2 linked regions of the Homo sapiens genome follow. The protein of the gene in region 1 purifies or fractionates together with the protein of each later gene. This does not show direct contact. Each region holds a gene or a part of one and is shown on either strand. Other genes may lie near its edges.

What was found.
Region 2: the proteins of SH3RF2 (region 1) and CCDC50 purify together in Homo sapiens (affinity purification with mass spectrometry, with the first as the bait; one study listed by BioGRID). This does not show direct contact.

What each region holds. Positions count from the first base shown.
Region 1 is NC_000005.10:145,939,462-145,943,286, reverse strand, and holds part of SH3RF2 (E3 ubiquitin-protein ligase SH3RF2), read right to left. Parts: intron 1-3,825. UniProt on the Homo sapiens protein: Has E3 ubiquitin-protein ligase activity. Acts as an anti-apoptotic regulator of the JNK pathway by ubiquitinating and promoting the degradation of SH3RF1, a scaffold protein that is required for pro-apoptotic JNK activation.
Region 2 is NC_000003.12:191,395,319-191,399,409, forward strand, and holds the end of CCDC50 (coiled-coil domain-containing protein 50 long isoform), read left to right. Parts: 3' UTR 1-3,341; downstream 3,342-4,091.

The sequences.
Region 1 (3,825 bases):
TCTTTTTGAGAACTCCCTTTCCTTTTGCAGTACTCTTTGGTTCCTTTTTTTTTTTTAATGGAGATCCCTGCATGTTTCTGTGTGTGTGCAAAGAACTCTAGTGCCAGCTGACTTTCTCTTCCATTGTTACTCTTTTGTTATTTACTGTTGCTAACATTTATTAGCTTCTGTTATATGCCAGGCACTTGTGCTAAGCTCTTTATATATATTATATATATGTATATCATTTTAATCTCATTTTAATCATTTTAATCTCACAATAGCTGTATGATATAAGTATGCCTTTATTATTCCTATTATATAAGTCTAGAAACTGAGGATCAGAGAGGTTAAGTGACTTGCCTAAGGCCACACAGCTAACAAACAATTGAATCCTGGCACAAATACAGCCCACTTCACCATAAATCCTTAAATGCTACAGTAAGCAATAAAAGAGAGGAGACTAACTAGAAAAGAGGTACACTGAGAGAGATTGAAGGCAGTGCCAGTGTGGGGCCATGTGGTTATTAAAAATGTTTGTAAATGTGTGTGAAGCTGGAGAACCATCTGGGTCTCTTGACTTCTCAACCTTAGCCCCTACCTTTATGTCTTCCTCCACCTACTACATATGGTCCTTGCTGTCCCAGATGGCACCTATCTGCTGTTTTCAGGGGCCTGGGATGATTTTAATCCCCTTGCAAATTTAGCAAAAACCCCACTGTCTGTATCACAGCTCTATTACAGGACACAACCTCTGAGACTCAGGAAAGGGGCTAGTCCACCTTCTGGTTTCTACCCAGCCTCATTCCCTGATATGTTTTCTGACCTCATTTTTTTTCCCCATCAGTTGCTTGCAACACCAGCTGAAAAGTTTCTAGGACAAAGCCACCTGGTCTGTGTGCTGGAGGTGGCAGGTGTGTTCTTGCTGATAAGGGGCAAGTAAGACAGAAACGTGTGTGACTGGCATGATGCTAGCAAGGTAGGGAGAAAGTCCATCCCTACAGAACCCATGGCAATATTTGTGTTGGGGAATAGAGTGAGAAGCAGGAAAAAACGAAAGATAAAAATGTTAATAAAGAATTGATGATGCGGAGGAAGTAGACCAGGTTCTTGCCCTGTGTATGGTTTTCCTTTGAAGGTGCTGTTTGGGGAAAGTGAAGTTAGTTAGGGAGTTTTCTCCTAGAATGGATCATAGTGCCTTAAGGGTTCTGGAAGTGAGCTGCGAAGCCAGCACATGCTGGGAAGAATCACACATCTGAATCATGGCCACGGATCATGTGGAGGCAAACAAAACAATGCAAAAATCAGGGTACCAAGGACCGTCTCTGGATGGCACTTGCTTAATAAGGGGCTGAAAGGGTGTGTGTAATTTAGAGTAGAAAGTATTGAGTCACTTCAACAACAACCACAGCTAACATTTACTGAGCACTTAATATGAGCCAGTCTCTGTGCTAAGAGCTAAGTGACATGAATCATCTCACTTATTTCTCACAACAACCCTCTGAGGTAGGTACTACCATTATCTCCAATTTACAGATGGGGAATTGGAGGACCTGAGGTTTAAGTGACTCACCCAAAGTGCAGAACTGTTGAGGGGCAGAGTCAGGATTTGAATTTGGGTATTTCTCAAACCCAAGTCCACAGATTCATAACTTCTCTGCTTTACCACCTATCCTAAATCAGAAATATTACTAAAGTGTAGCAGAATGAGGAAGAAGAGAGATCAGCTATTCAGGAACCTACAATCCTTTTGAAGGCTTGCCAAGTTCCTTTGCTTTAACTGTATTAGGGAAGGAATAAGAAGAACCAGTGGAATTTGCACCACCAGGACCTCTTCCTGGAGGAGTCTGGTGATCTTGCCTGTTGGTTTGAAATAAATGCACACTGCAGAAACCTACAGCTGTTTCTCAAGTTTTCTTTTTACACAATCATCTAGGGAGGGTTTTAGACATGTAGGCACAATAGGCAATTTTTTTCTCTCTATGGGCTGGCACCATGAGGTGTGACTATTGGTTCCACCCTAGAACACTGGTTGGCACAGGAAGCATCAGGCCTCTTTGAGCCAACAAAAAGAGCTTGATGAGCTTGTTTTTTAGATGAGTCTAGGTGAGCAGAACAGACTTTGGGCTTCAAAAGCTCATGGACAGAAAGTTAAACGAACTTTTTCAGGGTGCCAGGTTATCGGCAAGTCCTTTGAAAGAGGTGTTTTACAAAATGGTGCCCTGTGACAACAGGTTATTTATGCTCTCTGAGTGGAGTACTTTATACTTAGTATTATCCTGGCCTGAGCTCATCATAGAATCAAGTTCAATAATAATACCTATTACACTCTCCTGCAAGGGCTGTAACTCCTTCTACATTTTGTAGCATGCCTCATGTGTGGCAGGGCACAATAAACAGTCAATAATAATGTTCACTGTGATAATGATCTTCCAAATGTCTTTCATCTAAGGCTCTCAAAGTGTTTTGGAGATACTAATTAGTTAAACCTCACAGTAGCTGTCTGTTTTTATACATGACATCTTCCCATTTTACAGAATTTTAAATTGAGACCCAGCAAACATAAGTGGCTTGCCCAAAGTCATACAGCATGTCTAAATGAATCTTAATGATGATGCTTTGCATTTACATAGCAGATGTTTTCTAAGGCAGTAAAAGTATGTTGCAAAGATAATTTTCACACTATCCTGGAGGAAGGTGGGTAGCAAGTAGCTTTTGACTAGATTGGCTGAACTGTGGCAGAGAGGGCAAGGAACTCAGGAGGATTTGACCGAGGATGTAAGTCCATTCCTCTGACTCTCTAAACAGACTGTGGCATCCAGACAACCCTCAGTTCTCTTAACTGTGGGATGCATGGTTGCTTTCATGGTTGCAAAAAAGATAGGTAATATTTTTGGGAGCAGAGGCACGTTGCAGAACAGCAGCCATATTGACATCCAGAAATAGGTTTGTTCATATCCCCACTGAGGAAGGCAAAAGGAATGAGAGGAGTCACTTCAAGAAAGGATAGTTAGGACATAAAGGAATTGGGAAGTGGGGGTGCCAGCTCTGCTCTCTTGCAGAGCATCTTTCTAGCCCAGGTCCTGCCTGAACACAGGAGCCCTTGAGTTTCAGCCTCACCACAGGACTTGGTCCAGAGCAGCTTGGAGGGTGGGCACAGACGATAGTCTGATGTTATAAGTCCCTGCAAAAGAATTCCAGAGAGACCCAGTATCTTAATGGCTGTCTCTTATGTACAACCAGCTCTCACCTCAATTCCCTGTGCCAGAAGGGCCCTGAGAATCCTCTATAGTTCAAAAACTTGGTAGCTGTGGATCCATTCATCGCTACCTGTCCTTTGCAACACAGTCACATTGAGAAAGATGTAAACCACAACAAAAATATTCCAAGCTGATAAGGGAACTGCCTCCTCCCAGTGTGACACCGTTTCCTGAGTAAGTGATGATACTCCGCTGAAAGGCAGGTCAGACTTCTGCAAGGTGGGGAAGGGAAGAGGTTGCTAGGTCTTAGGAATTCAAGGGGGATTTGCTGACCCAGAGATAGAGCTCTTTTCTCTACAAACAAGGCATGTTTGAGAACAATTTGCTTCCCCACCCCTACTTCGCCATTTCCAGACCTGTGGATTCTGATTGATGACTAGACCAGGGGTAGTGGAGGGACTTAAAAAGAGTTCCAAACCCTTTTCTGGAATGTGTCACTTACAAGCACAATGGCAATAAAAAGCCTACAGTGAAGAAATCAAGGGTGTACAGTGAAAAAATGTCCTGCTTCTTCCCACCCTCATTGTTGAATGTTTACACATGCGCCATGGGTGGTTTAAAGATGCAGTGAACCCAGGAAGTGGTA
Region 2 (4,091 bases), on another chromosome or scaffold:
ATTAATTTTCTTTAATAGTTTCTGTCAAAACTTGTCTAAAATTTGTGTTGTGCCAAATTGGAAATACCCACTATAATATGGTGCATTCAGTTTACTCCACAAGTGGTTAACATTTTAAGTCCTAGATTTTTTATGTCTTGCCTTTGTATAAGCATCGCTTTGGGGAATACCAAGATGATTCATTATTCAGTGATTATTTTCTTGAAAGATAACTATGATGATTGGCTGTAAAATCTTCACCCTAATAAAGGAGTGAGATCTCTGTGTAAACAGCTTTCTGAAGGACTGATAATAGAATAGAACTTGCAGCCAAAGGCTTTTTCCCTTTTGAGAAGACGGTATTTGTGTAAGGAGTGCTAAGGTAGACTTCATTGTACATAGAGTGCCATATTCTGTTGAAACGATCATAACAAAATCAAAACCTCATGCTTCAGCAAAAAGGAAAAAAGATTTTTAAATTACTTTGTCTATTACTTACTGCTCATAGAGAAGTGACTATATAAAATGGTCCAATTTTCTCATTTCTGGTGGTGCCTGTGAGTCTTAAAGCCATATCTGCTTATCTTACTGTTGATAGAATACTTTTTTTCTTTTTAGCCCATGATAAGTAATATGGGCAGGTAGAAGCAAACTGGAGACTGTCCTGTTAATGCTGCATGGGGCACAATGTCTTTCAAATTATTGGTGGAAGAATCTCTTTTATCCATGGCGAGAGGTAAGAATATTAAAGAGTCAGGATATTGTTGCTCCTGGTATTTAACAACTGTCATTAGAAATGCTGAAATTTAATTGTAGAGAAGTCAAGAAAGAAAGAGTAAACTGAGAAAATCTTACTACTACAGAGTCACTTTTACAATGAGACCTGCACTTTATGCCAGCACTGTTTGTGAGGAGCAGTACTGCCTTAAATTAGTTTGACTCTGACTGATGTCAGTGTACGTTACTTCCTTTATGTGACTGACAGTCAGCTTTCCATTGAGATATAACATTCACAGATGATCCCCAAGTATCCTTGTCATCAGAAGCTTTGGACCTTTTCTGCCACTGACTTGTGGCTGATCTGTAACACAATAAATACATAATTTTATTTCATGTTGTCTGTCCACCTCTGAATAAGCAGTGGCATGACCAAAAAGACTGGTAGAAGGAGAGAATTTCTTGGCCAAATCCTTCATACCAGGTACCACTTCTTGAGTAACTGAGAGTTGACTGTCTTCTATGGTGACTACATAGAAGATATTTCCAAAGGTTCTGTTATGCAGTGAAGACATTCAGATTATTTGTAAGAATTTCACCAACACCCTTGTGTATTGAAATGCTTAACCATTAACAGGGAAAAAAAAGGAGAAAACCGAACAAAACAGAGACATTTACTTGAAATGGGAGGTTTGCTAATGTGAAGAGTGTTTCTGTTTTATTACTTATAAGAGAAAAGCAGGAAAACTTTTGCTTTGATAAGAAAGACACCAGAGTGGTGATTCTGTTTGATGCCACAGGCTAACACAATCGTGTAATCATGTTGAGTTGTAGAAATATATGGCCCTAAAAACCATTCTCTTTCCCTTATATATATAAATATGTGAACACTGCCTAGTAACATTTTAATAGATTTAAGATGCATTTGTACATTCTCAGCAAACTAGAAGAAAATGTTTTTTCTCTTTTTGAGTTAACTTCATAGCATAGAGAACCAGCACTGTGCAGGTTTCAGCATTTCAGATAAGGGCATAATTAATTGTGTAACTTAATGCCCTGTTATTCATTGCTGAGGTTCATATAAAGAATAGAAAAATTGAAAGATGGGTTTGGGCGACATTTTCTTCCCAAAAGATCAAGTAAGGAGTAAGAACAAGTAAGGGAAGACAGCTAAGAGAACATACTATGACATATCATAGAATTGGGATACATTTTTGTTGCACTGGATTTCAGGCTATACTGCTAAAATAATTTCTACCTGTTAAATTTTGTGAGAGGGTTTTTGACATCAGAATTTTTGTATTTCTGGTCAAATTGGTCTTGGAAATCCCTATGGTCTCTAATTTCAGCTCTTGCTGTAAACTGCAAGCCAAATGCTCTTTCTCAGAAAGAGCTATATTTTTCTCTTCTTACAGGCAACCCAATATTTATTTCATAAAGTGTTATAAATATTGAGAAGATACACTGGGGAGATAGCATATAAAAATGATGCTCCAAAATGAGAATTCTATATGGGGCTTTCCCTAAGAAGAATCCATCCCAGCACATATTTTGAAAAGGTGCTGAATTAAAAAGTACAAGAGTTTGCTCATATAAATCAAGTTGCCCAGGAAACCTGAGGTGATGCTATCATTTGTCTCATAATTTAGAAACGTGATCTCTTGAGAGAGAGACTACGCATTGCCTGGGCACTTTCAGATTCCTTAGGAAGTGCCCCTTTGATATTTGGAATGTGGATATATTTATAAAACAAATGGATTGTTATTCCAAATCCACATGGATTTATAACCAAGCCCCAGAAGAATAGGCAGCTTTGAAATAGCTAGTTCGTGGAATTGAACAGAACCTTGATGGAATGCAGTTGCCTGTGTGAGGACAGAAAACAAAGAGGCTGCCTCAGACCACATGCCTATCTAGAGATTAAGTGAATTTGTGAGGGACATTTTGTGGATGCCTTAAAGATGACCAGTGGTGGGTTCTGATGGGAATATATACACTCATCTGGACTAGGCCAATGGAAGCAGTCTCTTTCAGTTCACCTCCGTACAGCACAAGTTGTTCCTGCTCATGACCTCATTGAGGAAAATGAGAATTGTGGTGCTGGTGACTTTCATGTGTCTTGGGAGGTTGAGGTGTTCAACATCGTTAAGGCACTCCCAAAACGCAAACCTCCTTTTTTAAATGCCAATTGTACATCTACATTAATTCATCTATGCAAACTTGTGTTTTCATGGTTTGTTTTTTACACTATATTTCTCATTAGGTTCTTTAAACATCAGGTTTAATATTGATATTATGAATAATTTTTAAACCAAAGTATTCTATAAGTCTGTGTGCTTTGTTTTCCTGGATGGTTTGACCAAGGTAAACATCAGTCTTGTCCTTCTCTCTTAATAAAGTCATCCATTTGTTAAGTCAGTGGTCTCTGTCTCATGTTTTTGTTTTGTTTCTTTACAGCATTCAAGGACAGGGAAACTTACGAGAGTCTTATTATAATTATTATTATTTACAAAATGACCCTAATAGGTCTGTTTAGTAACAGTGAAATTTTTTCTTACTCCATTTCCATACACTTTCTGTAAATATGTATAACATGATAATGATGCCTGGTGTATTGAAATCCTCAATAAATACTGCCAAGTGTGGATCAGTTGGAGAAGTAGCTTTGTTTTGTGTGTGGTGTTTCGTGGTTTGATTGATATATTTGGGAGGAAAAAAAACAGGTAAGTGGATGTTCACACAATAATTCCAGTGATTAAAGACCCCATGCACAACTCTGCACTATACCTGACACCTTGTGGACACTTCAATGTATTTTGAGAAATGGATATTAATAACTGATTTATTCAATATTTTACCTTCATAAGAATTTTTTTTTTCTTATTTGGTTTGATAGAATAGCCACAATGTAGGAAATGATTCTGCAAAAATTAGGTATCTTAAATATAATATTTTCAATGACTACTAAATTTATTTTTAAAGATGTCACTATTTAGCCACCCCTACAGTAGATTCTCTAGGCCTCAGATTCCTCTGTGGCAAATATAGCAGGAAATCTAAATGATTTCTGTAGTCTCTGCTAGATCCTGAGTAGTACCAGTGATGTGCAGGTGATACTGTTTTATTTAGTTGAAGATTAGTATGTTGATTTCAACCTTTGGTCTCTAAATAAATACTAAAGTTGCCAGTGGAAAAAGTTGATGCATCTAGAAGCCAACTAAAAAATTAAATATGCAAGTAAAACAGATCCCTTTAATCTGTGGTAAGAGGTACTCAAGGTGATAGGGTGGTTTATGGGGAATATGACTTGAGTCTGATTGTCAGGCTATGGCCATGTGGCCATGTGAAAAGGTAGCATACAAGAAAGTTCCTTCTTTTTTTTTTTTTTTTTTTTT